Homo sapiens: one gene and its partners. The protein of the gene in region 3 interacts with the protein of the main gene of each other region in a pairwise test. Each region holds a gene or a part of one and is shown on either strand. Other genes may lie near its edges.

Region 1 (4,838 bases), on a different chromosome or scaffold from region 3:
CCATAATTTAGATTTTCCTTCTGAATGACCAAAAATGCCTAAGGGGAGGAATTTTGGTCACTAAAGAAGAAAATGGCCAAGCGCGGTGACTCACGCCTGTAATCCCAGCACTTTGGAAGGCCGAGGCAGGGGGATCACGAGGTCAGGAGTTCAAGATCAGCTTGGCCAAGATGGTGAAACCCCAACTCTACTAAAAATACAAAAAATTAGCAGGGCATGGTGGCAGGCGCCTCTAATCCCAGCTACTTAGAAGGCTGAGGCAGAGAACTGCCTGAACTGAGGAGGCAGAGGTTGCAGTGAGCCGAGATCATGCCACTGCACTCCAGCCTGGGCGACAGAGCGAGACTCTGTCTCAAAAAAAAAAAAAAAAAAAAAAAAAGAAGAAGAAGAAGAATGTTTAGATTTGTCAGTTGAACCAAGTTTCAGAATATGGCCAGTTTTAAAGATGACACTTTCTCCTTGACCAAATTTCGAATGAGAGAAAAGGCTGCAAACTGTAAAAAGACAAGCAAAACCTCAGACAGAAGTGAAAATCACAAATCTGCAGTCAACAGAATCTCTAGAGAATAAAAATGGAAACTCCTACCTTTCAGTGGAGCTTCAGTTCTAACCCTATCAAATTATTAGTGTGTAAGTCTCAATCTTCAACTAAGCTGGGAGGATTCAGATCCCAAGACTGGCCTTACCAGAGACCCCTGCCAGCCCCAGTGAGGTCGAGTAAACAACAGTCGTTTGTGCTGGTACCAAGGCTCCAACTATTGATGCCACTACTTAGTGGCAATCCCTGAAGGCCTGCTTCAGGTCCTATCTGGGTTGCCAAAATGTCAACCTCAAATAATGAAATTCAGGAAATATGATTAAGTATAGAGTTTATTTGAGCCCAAAGCTTGAGGATGGCTCCCTGGGCACATGCCCCTAGGTTGCCCTGAACATATGTTCCCATTAGCAGCAGTCACAGTGGGGTTTTAAGGAAAAGGAAGAGGCAGTCCCTAAGTTGTTAGCAAGAATTTGCATTAAAATAACAGAAGGTGCTGATTGGCTATGCATCGTTCTTAGCATCACTAATTCCATGTGAACAAGAAGATAATGGGTGAGGCAGCCTGTCAGGAGCAAAAATTCCATCAAACAATTGCCCTGGACAGTTGCTTCTATGGTGGAAGAGGCGCTGAATGAAGTCCCACACTCCTGCCTCTCTGGGCCTGATCATTCTGCACACCTCACAGAGCTCAGACTACCCTATTTTTCTTTTCTCAGGAAAAATGGGTGGATGGTACTGGTGGCCCTGCCTGGTCTGATCATCTACCCTGGTTCTAGTAACCAGATTAATTCCTTGTAATAGAGCTGTGGATTTCAGTTCAGTTCCCACGCACAGACCTTACCTCTGCTTTCTCCGACCACTTCTCCCCCACCCCAGGTACTTCACAGCTGAGAGCCTCTTGCCAGCTTCCAACTCTCCAGCAGTCTTTGTTCCCAGACCGTGTCCTGAGGCTGCACTTTCTGGACATGCCCACCTGCTGGACTGGCATCTGTCTTGTCACTTCTCTGGCCTCACCTCTGCGAAAGGAACACAAAAGTCAGGACCCCAGTTCACTCTGTCAAAAGGAAAAGAATGAGCTGAAAGCTGAGTCATGTAAGCAGCTGCCTTTCCTTTCGTTCCTAAGCAGACGGCTACAGATAGAAGGTTCAACATCCGCTTCTCTTATGTAAAGTGCTGATTTGCTGAGGAGTGAGCTGTACACAGTCGACTGTTCCCAACCTGCTTCTTTTCTCTTGCAACGTGTGGATTACCACACTGTTCCGCTTTCCCCTCCAGCCCACTTTTCCCCTTTAAATACTGAAGCCCTCAAAGTCATCTTTGGAGAAAGGCACAGACCACAGACTGTTTCTGTGATACCGTGTTTTTTTTCCTCCCAGGCATTGTCCTTAACCTTGGCAAAATAAACTTCTAAATTGATTGAGCCCTGTCTCAAGATACTTTTTGGTTTAAACCTCTGAGGCCCTACTGTTTCTAATACAGGTTTCCAGTTTGCTCATCTTTCCCAGGTAGGAAGATGCTCTGTTGCCAAGAGAAATGCAATTCTAACACGCAAATCCGCCCAAACACTAGAGCTCAGCATTCAGCTCTAGCCGAGCTAAGAGGATCCCATGGTCCTGCCCCACAGTCTGGGGCTCATCTTGTGGAGGAGGTAAGTAAAATAGGCCCTGTCTCTCTGACTTCTACCTAATCAGAGTTGATAGTTGCGTTGGAAATTAGGTAAATCGCAGGTGAGTTGATGAATGTGGGAAACCAGATGAAAATGGCTGCTTGATGGGGTTAAAACGCAGGAGAGGAATAGAACCCTTCCAACGGAATGGTTCCAGCCTTGTGACATGAGGAGACTGAAAGGGTATCCCAGAGGCAGGTCACTGGCCTTCCAGCTCCACCTGTGGGTGGCCTTGGCCAGGCAACTGCAAGAGTGCAGGGCCCCGGGGAGGTCGCACCTGGCAAGCGCTGAGGGAGGGTAAAGCGGAGAGGGGTGTGAGAAGAGAAAAACAACACAGAGCGTCCGAGCTATGTGAGGCGTGCGAGGTTAATCCGGCCCGGAGAGACAGGTCTATGCGGCTTCAGCGGTCCCCACCCATGCCTGGCAATTGTTTAAAGGCACTATTGCTCCGGACCCGCTGCCTTCACCCATGAACTTCCTTTCCTGGAATTATGATATAAAGAACAACGTACAGCCAATTAATAGCTTGTTATTTTCATGTAAATTCTTGGTGAGCTATTTAAGAACTGCCCCCCTCTTAAGCTTTATAAACCCACTTGTCACTGTTGCAAATCCTATGTTCAGGGCAACTTGAAGCTATGCTCCCGGGTTGCAATCTTCAAACTTGGCCCAAATAACCTCTCTACTTATATCAAGTTTGCCTCAGCTTTTTTTTTCTTCTAGGTCGACGGTTCCCGCCCCGCAAGGGTGCAGGGAAGGGGACGCCCGCACTTCCTAGTGCTCCCTTAGCTGGGGTCGAGCTGAGCGCCCCCCACCGAGCCCCAGGCGGCTCTGTGGAGAAGCCCCTCGGCCCCGGGTTCGGTCTGCACTGCCAGCCCCCAGTCCCCGGCGCGCAGGATCCAGCAGGGCCAGCGCCGGGCGGGCGAGAAGGCGAGAGAGCTAGGGCCGGGCGGGGAGGGCACCGGCAGGGGGCGCGGGTTCCCAGGACCGAAAAGGCGGAGCCTCCCACGCGCACTACGTGCTCCCTACGCGCATGCGTCCCGCCCACGCGCAGGCAGCACCTCGCCTGACTGGGTAGCGCTGCCACGTCGGGGCGGGGAAGAGCGTCGTCGCGTCCGGGTGACGTCTCCCGCGGGCGTCGGCAGGGTCGGCGGCGTCGGCAGCAGTGTCGACGGCAGCGGCGGCGGCGGGTGGGAAATGGCGGAGTATCTGGCCTCCATCTTCGGCACCGAGAAAGACAAGTGAGTGGGAGCCCCCCGCCGGGGGTTGGGCGCGATCGGGGCGCAGGGTGGTTGAGGCGGTGGGAGGGCGACCGGGGAGGCCCAGGCGGGCCGGCGCGGCGGTGGCGGGGGAGGGGCGCGCGGCGGGAAGGAGCGGTGGCCCTTCCGGCCCCTTGCGCGCCCTCCGGAGCCGCCGCCTCGTGGGCCGCGCGGCGGAAAAATGGAGCGGGGAGAATGAATGGGGTCTCTTTTCGGGGCGCCGCGGCCGAGCTTTCTCCGGCCTTGGGGTCCGAACTGGCTGATCGCCCGACGTCCGGGCCTCCGAGTCGCCGGCTCCCGGAAGCCGCCTCGAGCCGCGCTGAAAGTTGCCTGGAGCATCCGGGCCTTTTGGACGTGGACACGTTTGTTCCAACTTTCGGCTGTGAATGTCCTGTCGAGCAAGCTCTGGTACCAGCCTCGCCAGTATTCAGTCGCTTATCTAACTTAGGGTCCTAAGCGTTGGTGTTTTATCCACTTAGCCAGCCTCTTGCCTGTTTAAGCGACCGCTGGGCCGGCAGTAAGGAGATATGACGAGAAAAAGTATGGTGGAGACTACTGGATTAACTATCTAACCACAAGAGACGTGATCCGCTCTTAACATACAGGTGCTCCTGGATTTACCATGGGATTGCGTTCCGATAAACCCATCATGAATCGAAAATGCCTTTAATACCCCGATAAACCCATCATCTAAGTTGAAAATTTGTAAGTCGGTGACTGTTCTTGAAGACACAATTCTGATATAAGGAAAAAGATGTTTTGATTTTTTCCTTAAGGTTGCATGCCTTCCCTAATCAATCGTTAGGTTAAAAGCAAAACATTTAATTTCAGCTTTAATTGCCACCTTGGCACGTACTAATTTCCAGTGAGTTGGCTGTAGTTTAGACTAAATGGAATGTTTTCAGACGTTTGAAGGATAATTCTTACTTTGAAAACCTAAAGACTCAGCATCTGGCTTAATCTACTCTTTAGTTATCTTGGCATTCTTCAGTGCCATACAAAGTTAACATGACTTTATGTTTTCAATGATAAACCCCTAAGTTTGTCATAGATGTTTTTAATGCCACTTTTTTCAAACGCTATTTAAAATGTTTCTCTTTTCCAGGATGGAGTCTATCTTGTAAAATGTCCTCTTCACACATGGTAGAATCTCCTGTGTTGTTTGGATGAGGAGGCTATATTTCTAGCAAAATTTTAAGCCAAAATCTACCAGTTATAGTCACTCCAGAAACATTTAGTGGGGGTCAACTATAGGTCAGTTTCTGGAGACTTAAACATGGGTAAAATTTGGATATTATCCTTAAGGAACTCACGGTATGATCTTGGCGAATGAATAGACCAGCTCTATCGGAACAAGAGACTCTTCTGAGTTTAG
Region 2 (3,653 bases), on a different chromosome or scaffold from region 3:
ACAGTCTTTTTTTCAACACTTTTATTAACAAAAGTAAACATGGACAGAACACACTGCCATTTCTGGGAAGAGTAAAGATGATAAAAAATAATTTTAATGGTTCTTAATGTGGAAATTCACAACATACTCAACTTTTGGGTTTTGTTCTCACAGTATTTTTCACAAAAAAAGGGTAAACTTATTCTATTGACAGACATGGTGTACTGATCAGAAATGTTCAGTTTTAACTAAAACTAAATTTATGTTATTTGGCTAAATGTTATGATGCAGTCTAGTACGAGTATTGCATCTAATTCCAGGAGCATTGTTTTAAGTTGATTGACTAGTTATTATGTACATTTCAGAATGTACACATAAATACTGTGATGAAAATCATGTGATTGGGATCTACTGTGATGTTGTCTTCAAAGGCAGGAGAAAATAATGTTCACAATAAAATGTGCTAACAATGTTTTGTTTCTATCAGCTGTTGCAATGCTGATATATTTCTAGTTCAGTGAAATAATTTGTAGTAACCTTACTCTGAGGTTTTACGGTCTGATAATGAAGCACTTGCATGAGTATAGTAAGTCATGTTTTTTTGTTCAAATTTAAAAGCCCTGCTAATTGCATGACACACCACATAGAATGTATACTAGCAGATACTATCCAGTGAAGCATAAATTAGAATTTAATTTGATGTTCAAAAACAGTTCCATTTTTAAGGGTTAAGGTGGTATTTTCAAGAAAAGGCAGAACAAATAATGCAAAATTCTCAGTAATAGTGATACATGGATATACTTCCTTTTAAATTCTCAGCTGCAAAATAATTGTAGACAAAATAATGGCATTTAACTAAAGATGGAGCATGATCTAAGTACATAGCACATGTGAATAAAAGAAAAGCTGACAGTATATTCTGGTTTCAATAAAATGACCTATCAGAAAGTAGAATTTCATCCCCAAGAGTATTTCAGTTTATCCAATATTGAGTAAGTTCTGAAACAGTTTTAGAAAAAATTTTCTTTTTGTTAAATGTGATGCACTGATCAATTTTTGTCACAGCATTTTCATACCTTCATGGTGGACTACTAGTCACTGCTTCCATAAATATTGTTTACAGGGTGAGATTTGGTTTATTCATCTTAAGTGCTGTAGCAAACTGTGGTTCGAGCAACCTGTGGGAAATCTGTGAGAGGGAATGGGGTGGGAGATGTGGGGGAATGGTGGTCAGACTGATGACAGATCCTAGACCAATGTAAAGAATGTGTATCTGTATATAAATAATTTATCAAATAGTTTTCTCTTTGTGTCTGTGTTAGTGTTTTTAAAGCTGCTCATTTCATTTTGTCCAACCAAAAAGAAAAGGGAGATAACTAATGAGCTTCTAGTGATGTTCAAAATTGCTGTTAATAGGCATTATACCCTGCAAGTTCACTGCATGTCTGATGCTTGGTAAAACTAGTCTTCCCTGTAAAATGCAGATTACAGGTATTAAAGCAATCTAGTGGTATACCCGCCCCTTGCCTTAGTAAGAGGAGCAGTGAAATGTATATAGTTGATGTTCAGTATTTCCAAGTACCATTTTTATATAGTAGCTTATTTGACCATAAGTCACACATCAAAAAAAGATTACCCTTAGTGTATGTGTTTTAATATTAGAAAATTGGCATATGTACTTTATTTTTGAAAAGGGAAGAGATGGGTGTGGGGTGGCAATAGCATTGTGCCATTTTGTCATAGAATGTAAAAATTGGTTAACTTTACAAATGTCAGCTAGTTTTGACTACTAATTGGGGGAAATTTTAGATAATTTTTAAATTCAAAGTTATTTATAAAATGCTAGAATTTGTTTTAATTTTTTGTATTTTGAGCCACTTCACATGAAGACTCAGTTGCATTTTTATCGAATACATTTTTATCAACAGTTAAAGACTATGGTGGTTTTTTCAGAGTTTGGCTAAGAATGTTGTTACCATCTTCTTTGTTTGTGGTACAATATTTTCAGTGCAAAAGAGATGTCATTCAGTTAAAAAGACAAACCTCTAGATGTGTAATTACATGGAAAATACTAGCAATGTGAATGCTTTTGTAGTAACCATCTTGTAGTACCTGTGAAATCTATAACTCAGAAATGGTCAGATGGTCAGGAGCCAGCTATGCAGCAGTATACCATCTGTTTAATTATTTTGTAGGTCCTGTGTGTGGAACCAACTATAAACCCAGTTCTAAAGTTGTGTATGATGGTGAACCTTTGGGAATAGTTCTTATCAACTTAATTGGATACTTTTAGCAAATAGGAACTTAATTCTCAGCACTGAACATGAATTACTTCCTTGGAGTTTTTTTTCATTCATATTTTTGTTGTTTCCAGGAATTTATTTGATATTAATGGGCGTAAAACAGCATCATTGTACTTAAGCTATGGATGTTTTTATTTTATATTTTCTTTATTTATAACTGTGCCAAGTATTATTTTGCTACTTACCGTGTTATTCTGTGGAAAGAAAAACCTGTAAAGTGTTTAATAAATTAGCCCTCCTTACATAAATTAAATGTCAAAATTTTGTAAAATATTAATCAGAATAAATACTGACTCTTAAGTGTGTGCTTATGATTTCACTCAATTTACTTCAGGAAATTGATGAAATGATAGTGGTACCTATGATATGAAAAGATTATACATTTATATCCTGGTTAACTAGGAGTCAAGTGGCATAAGACTGTAGGAATTTGGAAAAATAAAAGATGGTGTTAGTATTCTAAAAAAAAAAAAAAATTTCCAATCCTGTGTGTATGCATGTGTGTGTGTGTGTAATTTTTTTTTAAATAAAGATAATAAATTTTTTAAGAATTTTTGAATTCCATGTAGTTAATTAGGATCCTCAGGGACTGTATGAATCTCCAAGTTTTAAATATGTCTAAAGATACTAAAGAAAAATATTGCAAAATGTACTATATAAAGAAAAATACTGCAGAATGAAACCTACCAAACGTTGATCTCAGTTACTTGAGAAGATATGCGTGGCAGAGAGAACTTCTTTATTTGGGACTTTAAAAGGCAAAAATTATTAAGGAACTGTTTCCTGTTGTTCCAGTGGTTGTTAATGGTTTGAGAACCCAGTGGTATTAAACAGGAATATTTTCAAATTGGACTAATACTCTATCCATAATTTTAGTCTGGAGTTCAAGTAACAATATCTTGAACAACTGTATAAAGTAAAGCCGCTAGTTTTCATTCCACCCAAGTATTTTCCTCCTCATTGTCTACTTTTTATCTCTCCTAGTCCTTGCTAGATTGATGTATCATACCTGATATGGATGTCTGAGTCTAGGAGTTTTTAGACATAATTGGAAACAAGTGGTATATACCAGGACAGAAAATCTTAACATCTTGTCAGAAAGTAAAGTGCTTGTTATCAGAGTTTTCTATTAAATATATTTATGTGACTTAAAATAGAAAAAGTAGATTGAGCATTCAGAATATTCTTTGGTCTGTGTCAGCTAAGTCAGAAACTCAAGGAAACCAGGTATGCCTCTTAGAAAACTCTTGCCTTTGAATTGGATATGAATGTTTTACCCAGGTAAATTTTTGCTAAAACTGTCACTCATTTACTAGGACTGACAAATATTTTTAATAGATGGCAATGTTTTTAGATTGTTTCCATTCAAAG
Region 3 (4,642 bases):
CCATTCCCTACTTGGCTCGAACAGGTCATGCAAAAATTTTTCTTACAGTCCAAGCAGGTCTGCTGCTTAGAGCAAAAGACACAGGAAACCATGTCAGATTGAGAGAACAAGACAGAGAGTGCGATGGGAGCTTCAGAGCTGCCAAGCCCAGCAGGATCTCCTCCAGTCACTCTTACTTTTACTAAGCTCTCTCATATATCTAAGGGTGCAAGCCACTTTCAGATTTTAGATTAAAAGCCACTCGGGTGGAAGACCTCCACTATGTATTGTGTATATCCATGTACAGGACACTTCACATTTATTATTTAATTTGAGGCTTACTTTATTTACTCCTGAAGCACCTGAGGTATTAATTAAGACTACCAGCATAAGAATCAAAAAGCTCTGCATTTTTATTAAGCCTCCCTCCCTTATTTCTTGCAGTATCACCTTGGGTGTGTAATTTAGCCTCTCTGGTGCTCAGTTTCCACATCTGTAAAATGGGGGTGATAACAGTATCTACCTCATGGGGTTGTTGTGAAGATTAAGAGAGAACCCATTTAGCATATCTAACACAAAATGAGTCCTCAACAAGTGTAAGCTGTTTTATTATAGCTAGGAAATATTACCTAACGGTGACAGCCAGGATTCAAATCCTAAACTGTAATTATTTCTGCATGAAGGTTATGGTGGTGGTGGTTGTTACAATTAATATTAATTTATTGAGGTGCTTCTATATGCTAGCTTGTCATTTAATTCTCAAAGCGACATTGCAAAGTAGGTATTAGTGTTCTTCCCTGATTCACAGACAAAGCAACCGAGGCTTAGGGAGATCAACTGTTGTATTCAAGGTCAGGCAATAAACAGGAGAGCGGGTATTCACACTCAAGGTCTGTTGGAGGCTAATGCCCATGATCACATTCTTTCCACCAGGCCATACTGCATAGCTCAGTTCCATTCAAGTACAGAGCAGTTCTGAGTCAAGGGCCTGGCTTCCATCTCCAAATTCCCCACCCACTGCTCCATCGACACAGGCTCCCCACTCCAGGAAGGCCCACTCAGAGTGCTGGGAACCCAGTGGTGCTTACAAGCATATCCAAGACAAATATTTAGACAGCAACGGGAGGCTGTCTGGACATCAGGGTACTCTCGTTCCTGAAAGCACAGAGTGTCTCAGTTAGGCAACAAGAGCGCCTGATGGGCAAGCTGGTACTGCCTGGCAGCAGCTAGTCTGGCAGTCGCTGACAACACAGGAAGGCTTACTCAGCCCACAGGAAGCAATCCTCGGCCTCTCACCCCACAGGCTGAGTGAGCACAGTGACATCCGGCTGAGCTCTGTTCTGGCCAAGAGCATGTCACATCCCCAACAAGAGAGGTAATTCCTGAGCACACTGGGATTGGCCTGGAGGGCACCCTCATTAATCCTTTAAAGAAGTTAAAAACTTTTCATCCTGTGTTGACTTAAGTAGTAACTTAAATATTTCTGGTCCATCTTTTCGAAATATAGAAAGATATTCAAGCTAAAAAAGAAAGCTCAAGAGACAAGATTCTCATAGTCAAGATCACAGACACTCTGGGCTGAAGTAAATGTCTGCATAGTTAAGATAGTTATATAAGTTTTGTCTAAGTATCATTCACATAGTAAAGGGAAAAGGAAATAATATTTACCACCCAGTTTTGGCTATTAAGACTTAGAAGGCATTGCAAAGGGACATATATCAAGCTCCCTAATTCTCCATACAGTTATAACCAAACAATACTGTTCAGAGATGGACTTAAAAGGATGCATGGCTGCACTAGCATTGTAACGGTTCTGGGACCAGTAGCCATGCAGGCAGAAAATGGATGTTTTCAGGTATTTGGGGTTCATTCACATCTAAAGCTTTTCTATTGGGAAATGAAGTCTGTTTAGGATGACTGAGACTGAAACAAAGAGGCTTCAATGCCATAAACCTGTGGGCCTGACATGGAATATTACTTAAGTCGATGCAGTCTGACAAGACCTAGCTTGACACAATTATAAAGCCTGCGTTGCTCAATCAGCCAGATCCAAACAACTCTCTATTCTTTCTTCAAATGTGTGTGGCTTGCTGGATGCAAGATCAGAATGCAGACAACAACCTAGCTTCTATGCACCCGCTGGCTCACAGGGAACTCTGAAATAAGCTGGCATCTGAAACACACCCTACAGGAACAGGATAGGGCTTGAGGCTAAAACCCCAGTTTGCAGTGGCAGAAGAAAACAAGAAGAAAGGAAAAAAGGGCTGTCAACAAATGCAGGCAGAATGAGCAAAGGACACACTTATGTATAAATTCTGCCGAATGGTTCAAAACAACTCAGTAACCAGGTAGCATGAAAGATGAATTAGTGGAGGCAACCAACATGCCTGCAGAAATGCCCAGGGTGTACTGAGATATCCAGCATCACAGAACTGGCCGTGGCGCCTCAGGCCGACACCACCCTTCAAGGATGCCGTGTGCAGGGTTCTGCTGGCTCCCGTTTGCCAACTGCCCTTCCCTTGCTCCTACTCCCTCCCACCCTATTCCCTGGAATATGGGAAGTATTACATGAGAGAATGTATATAAAACCTTAGCACAAAGTGGATGCTCCAGAAAAGGTAACACGGTTACCTTTTTCTTTCCCCTTACCAGCACCTAAGACCCAGTCCTCTCTTAACACTCTGAGATCTGAATATCACTTCCATGGCTCCAAGCATAACCTCATCCTCCAACTGGTCCAACTAAAGAGGCTGGGTGCCAGACTCCCTCCAAAACCGTCAGGGTCGCTGCTAAACCACAGGGAGGTATTACCAATAGAGATGGGGTATTTGGCTTGTGGCAAAAGTACAGCCTGCCATTTCTCTTTAGGACTGAAAACTCAGGGAATGCAAGGGCCACATCTTACTTATATTCTGTCTATAAAGTCCTGAATGTTATCTGTGCTTTGCACCCAATAAGCATTCAGAAAGTACTGACCATAATGAAGAATAAGGAAAAGAAAAAGATAGTAGGATCCATGGAATCATTTCAATTCAAGCACTTCTAGAAAAAGACATTTTGAAAGCCCCTGGGTGTTAAATGCCAAACCCTTAAGATAAGAATGCTGATCCACTTAAGCATGAAATTACAAATGAAAAATTCTCATAGATGAAAACACCCTTAATATTCACAAAATTCACTGTAAATTGCACAAAATTAACTCATACTTTTGTAGCAAGAAAATATTGTAGCAAGAAAATATTGTACCAATAACCATCTTTTACCATCCAAACTGGAATTTTTCTTCCCCTCCAGAAGCTCTTGTTACACACACTTTTCTTTTGTCACATCGTATGGTGTGCACTGTCCTCACCTCCCTGTCCAACTGCAAGCTCCCCGTTAAGCAGCAATGGCCTTCTTCATCTCTGCCTCCCTAGCCCAGGCAATTCCTGATACACAGTAGATATTCAGTAATTCATTTTCCAATAAGTAAGAAAAAAAGCACCTTATTTTAATCATTGCCATGCTTTTCTAGGCACCCAGGCCTGTAACTGTCATCTTCTACTCGACATGCTGAATGTCTTCTGGGAGGGGCTTTGGAATCAAGGACCTGGGTTTGAATCCCGGCTCTGTCATTTAATAACTATGTGATCTTGAGCACTACTGAAGTCAAGGGAAAAGAATGAGTATTTTAATATCTCTCATGCTATTTGTCAGGAATTTAACACATTCAATGTTCTTCTTAAATTTTAAACCCTAAGCCCTAGTTTCTCATATGTAAAATGGGATTTGGGAGATTCTAAAACCTATATCATAGCTATTGTGAGGATTAAATGAAATAAAAAAATTTAAATTCCTTAAACAGTCCTTTGCACATAGCAGATGGTTTAAAAGTATGATTTCCTCTCAAATTTCCCATGATCACCATTTTAACATCATATCCTATCACTTATTCTGAGCTGCAAACCTCTCATTCTGCAGAAAAATGCAGAATGCAGGAGTTCTTTATCCAGGTGAGGGTTTACCTTCTGCCTAGTCATGCTTGATCACAGATAACTCACTGCCTCTGGAAGAGGGAGGGTGCACACCTAGACACCATTATCTAGCCAGTAATTTTTTTTCCAGCTCATTCATTTGGGAAGCATGGCTCCCAAGCATTTCAAATGAAATCTGCTACAGTAAATAAGCTCCAGTCTTTGTTATGGTCTTCATGTACCTGAGGCATCCTTAACGTTGCTTTTGATAAAAAGAACAAGTTAATCTGCAATCAGGCCTTTGTGATGGTGGCTAATGATGGAAATAACATCAAGTGCCTACGACATTCTAAGCATTGTGCTAGGCACCTTTCATGGCTTTCTTGTCTCACTTTATTCCCACAACCCTGAAAGATGAGGACTACAATCATCCCCATTTTATAACAGGGAAACTGAATCTCAAGAGAGGTTAGATCATATAGCTAGTAGGTAGCAACGCTGATAACTGAATTTAGGTCTACTGACTCCAAATCTATGCTGACATGCTTTGCTTTTGCTTTTACTCAGTTAGTTCTTCTTGAACATTTTTGTGAAAGGGACAGCTCTGGGTCACCAGCATCACACAGGGAAAGGAAAGGTTGCAGGCATTCAGAGGGGTCAGTGGCGCTTGCCCATGGTCCATAGGCTGCAGTGGCAGAGCAGGCCAAGAA
Region 4 (4,842 bases), on a different chromosome or scaffold from region 3:
GAAAAAAGGGAAGCAAAGGAAGACAGACACCCCGCCCTCAGGGTGCTCCCCCCATGATGGGCCAGGGCTGCAGGGGAGCCAGCCGAGGCAATGCCTGCTTAGGACGAGGGAGCCGAGGTGGGCTTCTCCTCCCGCGACACGGGGATGGCTCGCTCGGCGTGGGTGGCATCCAGGCCAGTCTGGATCTTGGGGCCACAGAAGGTCAGCATGCCATCGGCAGACAGGGAGCAAGAGAGGGCCGACTGGTCCACGTTGGACGGCAGGCGGTAGCGGCGGTGGAACTCACGGGAAATGTAGCCGTGGTCGTCCTGGAGAGGGTGGGGGCGCACAGTCAGGGGGGCCACTGTGCAGGCGGCTGCCTCGCCCCATGCCAGAGAAGCTGCCCCAGCCCCACTGACTGCAGAAGGGGGCCAGCCTGCGGGGGCTCTCACAGGGGCCGGGTGCAGCCAGCACATCCCATGGCCAGGCCCCCTGGGATTTATGGATTCATGCCCCTGCTTCTCTGGACCTCAGCCTGGCCTCGTGGCCACTTGCCGGGCTATTCCCCGCGGGGGGTTGTCTCTTCCCGCTCCATGGCTTCACTCCAAAATCGCAGGATCATTCCAGACCAGGCCCCGCACCTCAGCCAGTCTTCCCCTTCCAGACCCCGCAGGACTGCTCTAGCCCAGGTCTCTGCAGCCCTACCTAATGTGGCCAGACGACCCACATGCTTCCACGTCCCCTGGACGCCCTAAACCGCAGACTCAGCTCCCTGGGCTGACCTCCTCCTCCACTGGGTGCAAAGACCAAGAGCTGGGAGCTCAGGAAGCATGTTCCAGGCTGGCTGGGGCTACGTGGGGGCTTTACCGGGCCCAGGCGAGGGAGGGGCAGCACATGAGGAGGTCAGCGTTCACCCCCCAGCACCACCTTCTCCAGCCATTGAAAGAGGACCCTGGCCAAAAGAAACCAAGACTTTGGCTAAGAGTTCCACCTTCCAGCCCCACTCTGCTCTCCAGCCCCCGCGGGGCACTGTCCATCTGTGACAGTCCATGAGCTCTTCCCGGCTCCGCCAGGAGATGCAGGTCACCAGGGCTCCAGTGCCCCGGCTCCCTCAACACCACGGAGATCCGAGGCCTCCAGCCGAGCAAGAGCGGGGCATCAGGGTGACTGTGGGGAGAAGCTCCCGTCCACCTGCCCGGTACTAGCTGTGGGACCCAGCAGGCTGAGGACCCCCTTGTTCCCCAGCCGTGCCCTGGAATAATGAGGACACTGGTTCCAAAGTGCTGCTGTGAGGCGAAGGTGTCAATGCCTGTAAAGCATTCCAAGCGGATGCAGCTATGCCGTCGGGGACTGGCTTCCTCAGGTAGGGTTCATGTGAAGATGTACACTGGCTAGGAGGCGGCCACCCGGGGCACTCCCACTTCCTGGGGTTCTTTCTAAGACCACCCTGGCATCCAGGTGACAGGGATGGAGCTGGCGACGGCTGGGTGCAGCCCGGGAAGGGACCCTAACCTGGATCCCTGAGCCACATTAGCTCGGGAATGGTGACCTCTGTCACCGGGAGGGGCTGGCTGTGCTCAGGTGGGCACGGCCCCTCCCTTGGGGAAAAGCCAGGCCTGATTCGGGGTCCCCTGGAGAGCGTCCCTCTCCCAGGGTTGAAGGCATGGTGCAGGTGTGCAGGCCCGGTCGTGCCCGCCGTGACCCCCTTGTCCTCGCGCCCAACTCGCCCCCCTCTCCCACCTCTCAGTGCCTGGGCTCACCTGGCGCTCGTTGTGCTTTCCGTGGATCTCCACAAAGTCGTCCTGCACCTTCACGGTGAGGTCCTCCGGGGAGAAGTGCTTCACATCGAGGAAGATGACGAACTTGTCCCGGTCGGATCGAACCTGAAATCCAAACGTGCCATGTGGAGCTGCCCAGAGGGTGCCGTCCCTGCTGGGGTTGGCAGAGACAGGGCGGGTCCCGGTTATCAGAACAGAGATGCTTCGGTCACCTGCCGGCCTCTTCTCCCACACACCAAGTGGGGCAGAGCTTTCGGGGGCCTGTGACTGTCTCCTGGACAGACAGGCATGACCCTCGACCTGTCTCCAAACCCTCAGGGCCAGCTGAGGGGCTGAATGCTACTGGTGGGCCGGCTGGTTGTTTGGCTATGGTCAGGTGGCTGGTTATAGATAAGTTGGCTGGTTATGGGCTGGCTGGCTACTGGTTATGGTAGGAGGGGTCGTTACGGGTTGGTTGGTCCGTTAGGGTCAATCGTCTGGCTGGTGATGCTTGGCTGGCTGGCTGGACTCAGCCTGTGGAATGAGGTCACTGCCCTTGGTGTCATGCTGTCTATAGAAGCGGCCGGAGCCTGCTGACAGCCTGCGCAGCTGCCTCTCCAAAACGCACTTCCACATGCTCCTTCTCACTCCCCTGGCTCAGCCTTGGCTCCCTGAGGCATTTTGCACCCTGGCGTTGATGCCTACTGCAGCAGCCCTGGGGAGGACCCTGTTTATGAGGTGCTGGGTGGGACTCAGGCCCTCCAGAACAGCAGAACCTGCACCGCTCACCCGTGGCTCAGAGAGGAGGCCTGTGGTTGGGTGGGGGGGGGGGCGTCCATTGCCTGTCCTTTTAGCCTTGGCAGGGCACCTAAGTAAACTTGCCAAGAGCTTTGCTAGCCGTGGGCAGGCCGAGCTCATTGGAGGAGGTGCTAGGAACGCCCTGCTCTCTGGCTTTCAGGACTATGACCCCCACCTGCTCCCAGGTCTCCGGGACTCAGGAGACCAGAGGAACCCGGGAGCTGGCATTCGCCACCACGCATGCCTGGATGGGCTGCTCTTGGGGTTTCCAGTATGTGGCTGGTGCCTTACAAAGCACACATGGGTCATGAGCTGATGGAGGAAAGCAAAGGTGGATTCAGGCTGCTCCCTTGTCCACCCTCTCCCCAGTGCCAGGGGAAGCTCTGCCACGTGGCTGCAGTGGGGACACAGGCTCTCGCCCAGCCTCTGCAAGGGGATGAAGTGGGACGAGGCCACCTGCCTGACGGAGCAAGACCAGAGTCCATCGCTCTCCACCCACCGAGGCCACCACCCTCTGAGCAGCGAGGAGAGGCCAGCACCACGGGCCACGTCTTACCTCAGAGATGCCGGAGTCCAGCACGGTGCGGAAGAGGGACTGGCGGTAGTAGGGGCTGATGGTGGACGACAGGAAGGGCAGCAGGTCATACTCAAAAAGGCCCTCGCCGAAAAACTGGTCGAACAGCCGGCTGGGGTAGAAGGGCCCCAGGGTGCGCTTGAACCAGGGGTGCTGGATGGTCACGTCCATGTTCAGCTTTGGTACCACGGGGACCTGGAGGCTGGCAGGAGTCAGCGGGGCCTCTGGGCAGCGCAGTGTGGAGCCAAGGCCGAGCCCTCCCTATATATGCCACCAGCAGAATGGAGGCATTAAGGGATTTCTCTGGAAAGGCGTGAGCTCATGAAGAAGGCTGCTCAGTCAGCAGAAACGTGGCTGGGACAAGTGCCCGCCCCCAGCCCCAGGAGGGGCTGCACGGACTGTCCCCGAGGCCTGGACTCAGCTGAGGCCCGCCTGGGCACCCTGGGGCTCCCGGGAGGGCAGACAACCCAAGGAGGCGCCTGTGCCCCATACTCGCCTGGGGCGACAATGGAGCTTCTCATCTGCCAGTCACTGGGCAGGGGCTACGTGCCAGGGACCATGCTAGTTCTCTGCACACCTTGTCCTGCCGGGGTGGTCCTCATGGTCGCCAGAGGAGGGAGAGCACACACCCCCGTTAGACACAGAGGTTAGACACATCGTCCTCAGAGTCTCACCGGGCCTGGGCAAGAGTGCACTGGTTTCCAAAGCGGAGTGCATCTGTGAACCTCCGTTACACTCACCACTTACAAAAGTACGCATGCTTGTTAAAACTCGTGGAGAAGAAGCTGCAAGGTGCCATAATTCCAGCACCTGGGGGAGCCCTATGGCGTTTCATGCTTGTCCTCCAGGGGTCACATGCCTCCAACAGGAAGACGGGCTGGGCTGTGGGCAGATGAGAGCACCACGTGGTGAGCTTCCCTCTGCGGCCCACCCTGGACGCCCAGCCCCATGGCCATCGTCCCCTCGATGTAACGCCTCGAGCGTTACATCTCGTAATGATGTAATGCCTTGATGTAACATCCCCACGTAACGCCTCGAGCCTCCGTGGCATGACCTGCCGTGGCTGTTGAGTTGGGCTGCTCCTGTCAGGGTGGCGACATGTCCCCACGTCCCTGTCACCCATGCGGACCCACCACCCACATGATCCTGTTATCCACAAGTCCTGGTGATTATTTTGCTCCTCGACCCATGGCCCCTGTCCAGTTCTCACTAAGTGTCCAGGCACTCCCGGTTTTGTTTGTTTGTTTTTGAGATGGAGTCTTGCTGTGTCACCCAGAGTGGCGCCCAGATCATATAGTGGCGCGATCTCAGCTCACTGCAACCTCTGCCTCCCAGGTTCAAACAATTCTCCCACCTCAGCCTCCTGAGTAGCTGAGACTGCAGGTGCCTGCCACCACACCTGGCTAATTATTATTATTATTATTATTATTATTATTTTTGTATTTTTAGTAGAGACAGGGTTTCACCGTGTTGGCCAGGCTGGTCTCAAACTCTTGACCTCAGGTGACCCACCTGCCTTGGCCTCTCAAAGTGTAGGATTACAGGCGTGAGCCACTGCACCTGGCTCACTCCTAGTTTTAAGTCTTTTGATATTTTGGTATTTTGATATTTTGGTAAACTGGCCCTGGGGAGCATGGTCCTCCCCCACATCCCCCCTGCCAGCCTGGGAAGAGGCCATGCCCCCTCTCCCAGGCTAGCTTTTCTAGTGTACGGTCCAGGCTGTGGGAAGTTGCC

What was found. The genes of interacting proteins can lie anywhere in the genome.
Region 1: the proteins of RFFL (region 3) and alpha-crystallin A2 chain interact in binary tests that used the Homo sapiens proteins (3 or more experiments, as listed by UniProt).
Region 2: the proteins of RFFL (region 3) and ZDHHC17 interact in binary tests that used the Homo sapiens proteins (3 or more experiments, as listed by UniProt).
Region 4: the proteins of RFFL (region 3) and CRYAA interact in binary tests that used the Homo sapiens proteins (3 or more experiments, as listed by UniProt).

The regions. Positions count from the first base shown.
Region 1 is NC_000021.9:6,497,736-6,502,573, reverse strand, and holds the start of alpha-crystallin A2 chain, read right to left. Parts: upstream 3,372-4,838; 5' UTR 2,801-3,371; intron 1,555-2,800; 5' UTR 1,380-1,554; intron 1-1,379. Other genes in the region: splicing factor U2AF 35 kDa subunit-like protein, read left to right, coding at 3,402-3,445. UniProt on the Homo sapiens protein: Contributes to the transparency and refractive index of the lens. In its oxidized form (absence of intramolecular disulfide bond), acts as a chaperone, preventing aggregation of various proteins under a wide range of stress conditions.
Region 2 is NC_000012.12:76,851,115-76,854,767, forward strand, and holds the end of ZDHHC17 (palmitoyltransferase ZDHHC17), read left to right. Parts: 3' UTR 1-2,582; downstream 2,583-3,653. UniProt on the Homo sapiens protein: Palmitoyltransferase that catalyzes the addition of palmitate onto various protein substrates and is involved in a variety of cellular processes.
Region 3 is NC_000017.11:35,021,720-35,026,361, forward strand, and holds part of RFFL (E3 ubiquitin-protein ligase rififylin), read right to left. Parts: intron 63-4,642; coding exon 1-62.
Region 4 is NC_000021.9:43,167,537-43,172,378, reverse strand, and holds the start of CRYAA (alpha-crystallin A chain), read right to left. Parts: upstream 3,372-4,842; 5' UTR 3,280-3,371; coding exon 3,091-3,279; intron 2,144-3,090; exon of another isoform or gene 2,048-2,143; coding exon of another isoform or gene 1,970-2,047; intron 1,863-1,969; coding exon 1,740-1,862; intron 1,343-1,739; exon of another isoform or gene 797-1,342; intron 309-796; coding exon 99-308; 3' UTR 1-98. UniProt on the Homo sapiens protein: Contributes to the transparency and refractive index of the lens. In its oxidized form (absence of intramolecular disulfide bond), acts as a chaperone, preventing aggregation of various proteins under a wide range of stress conditions.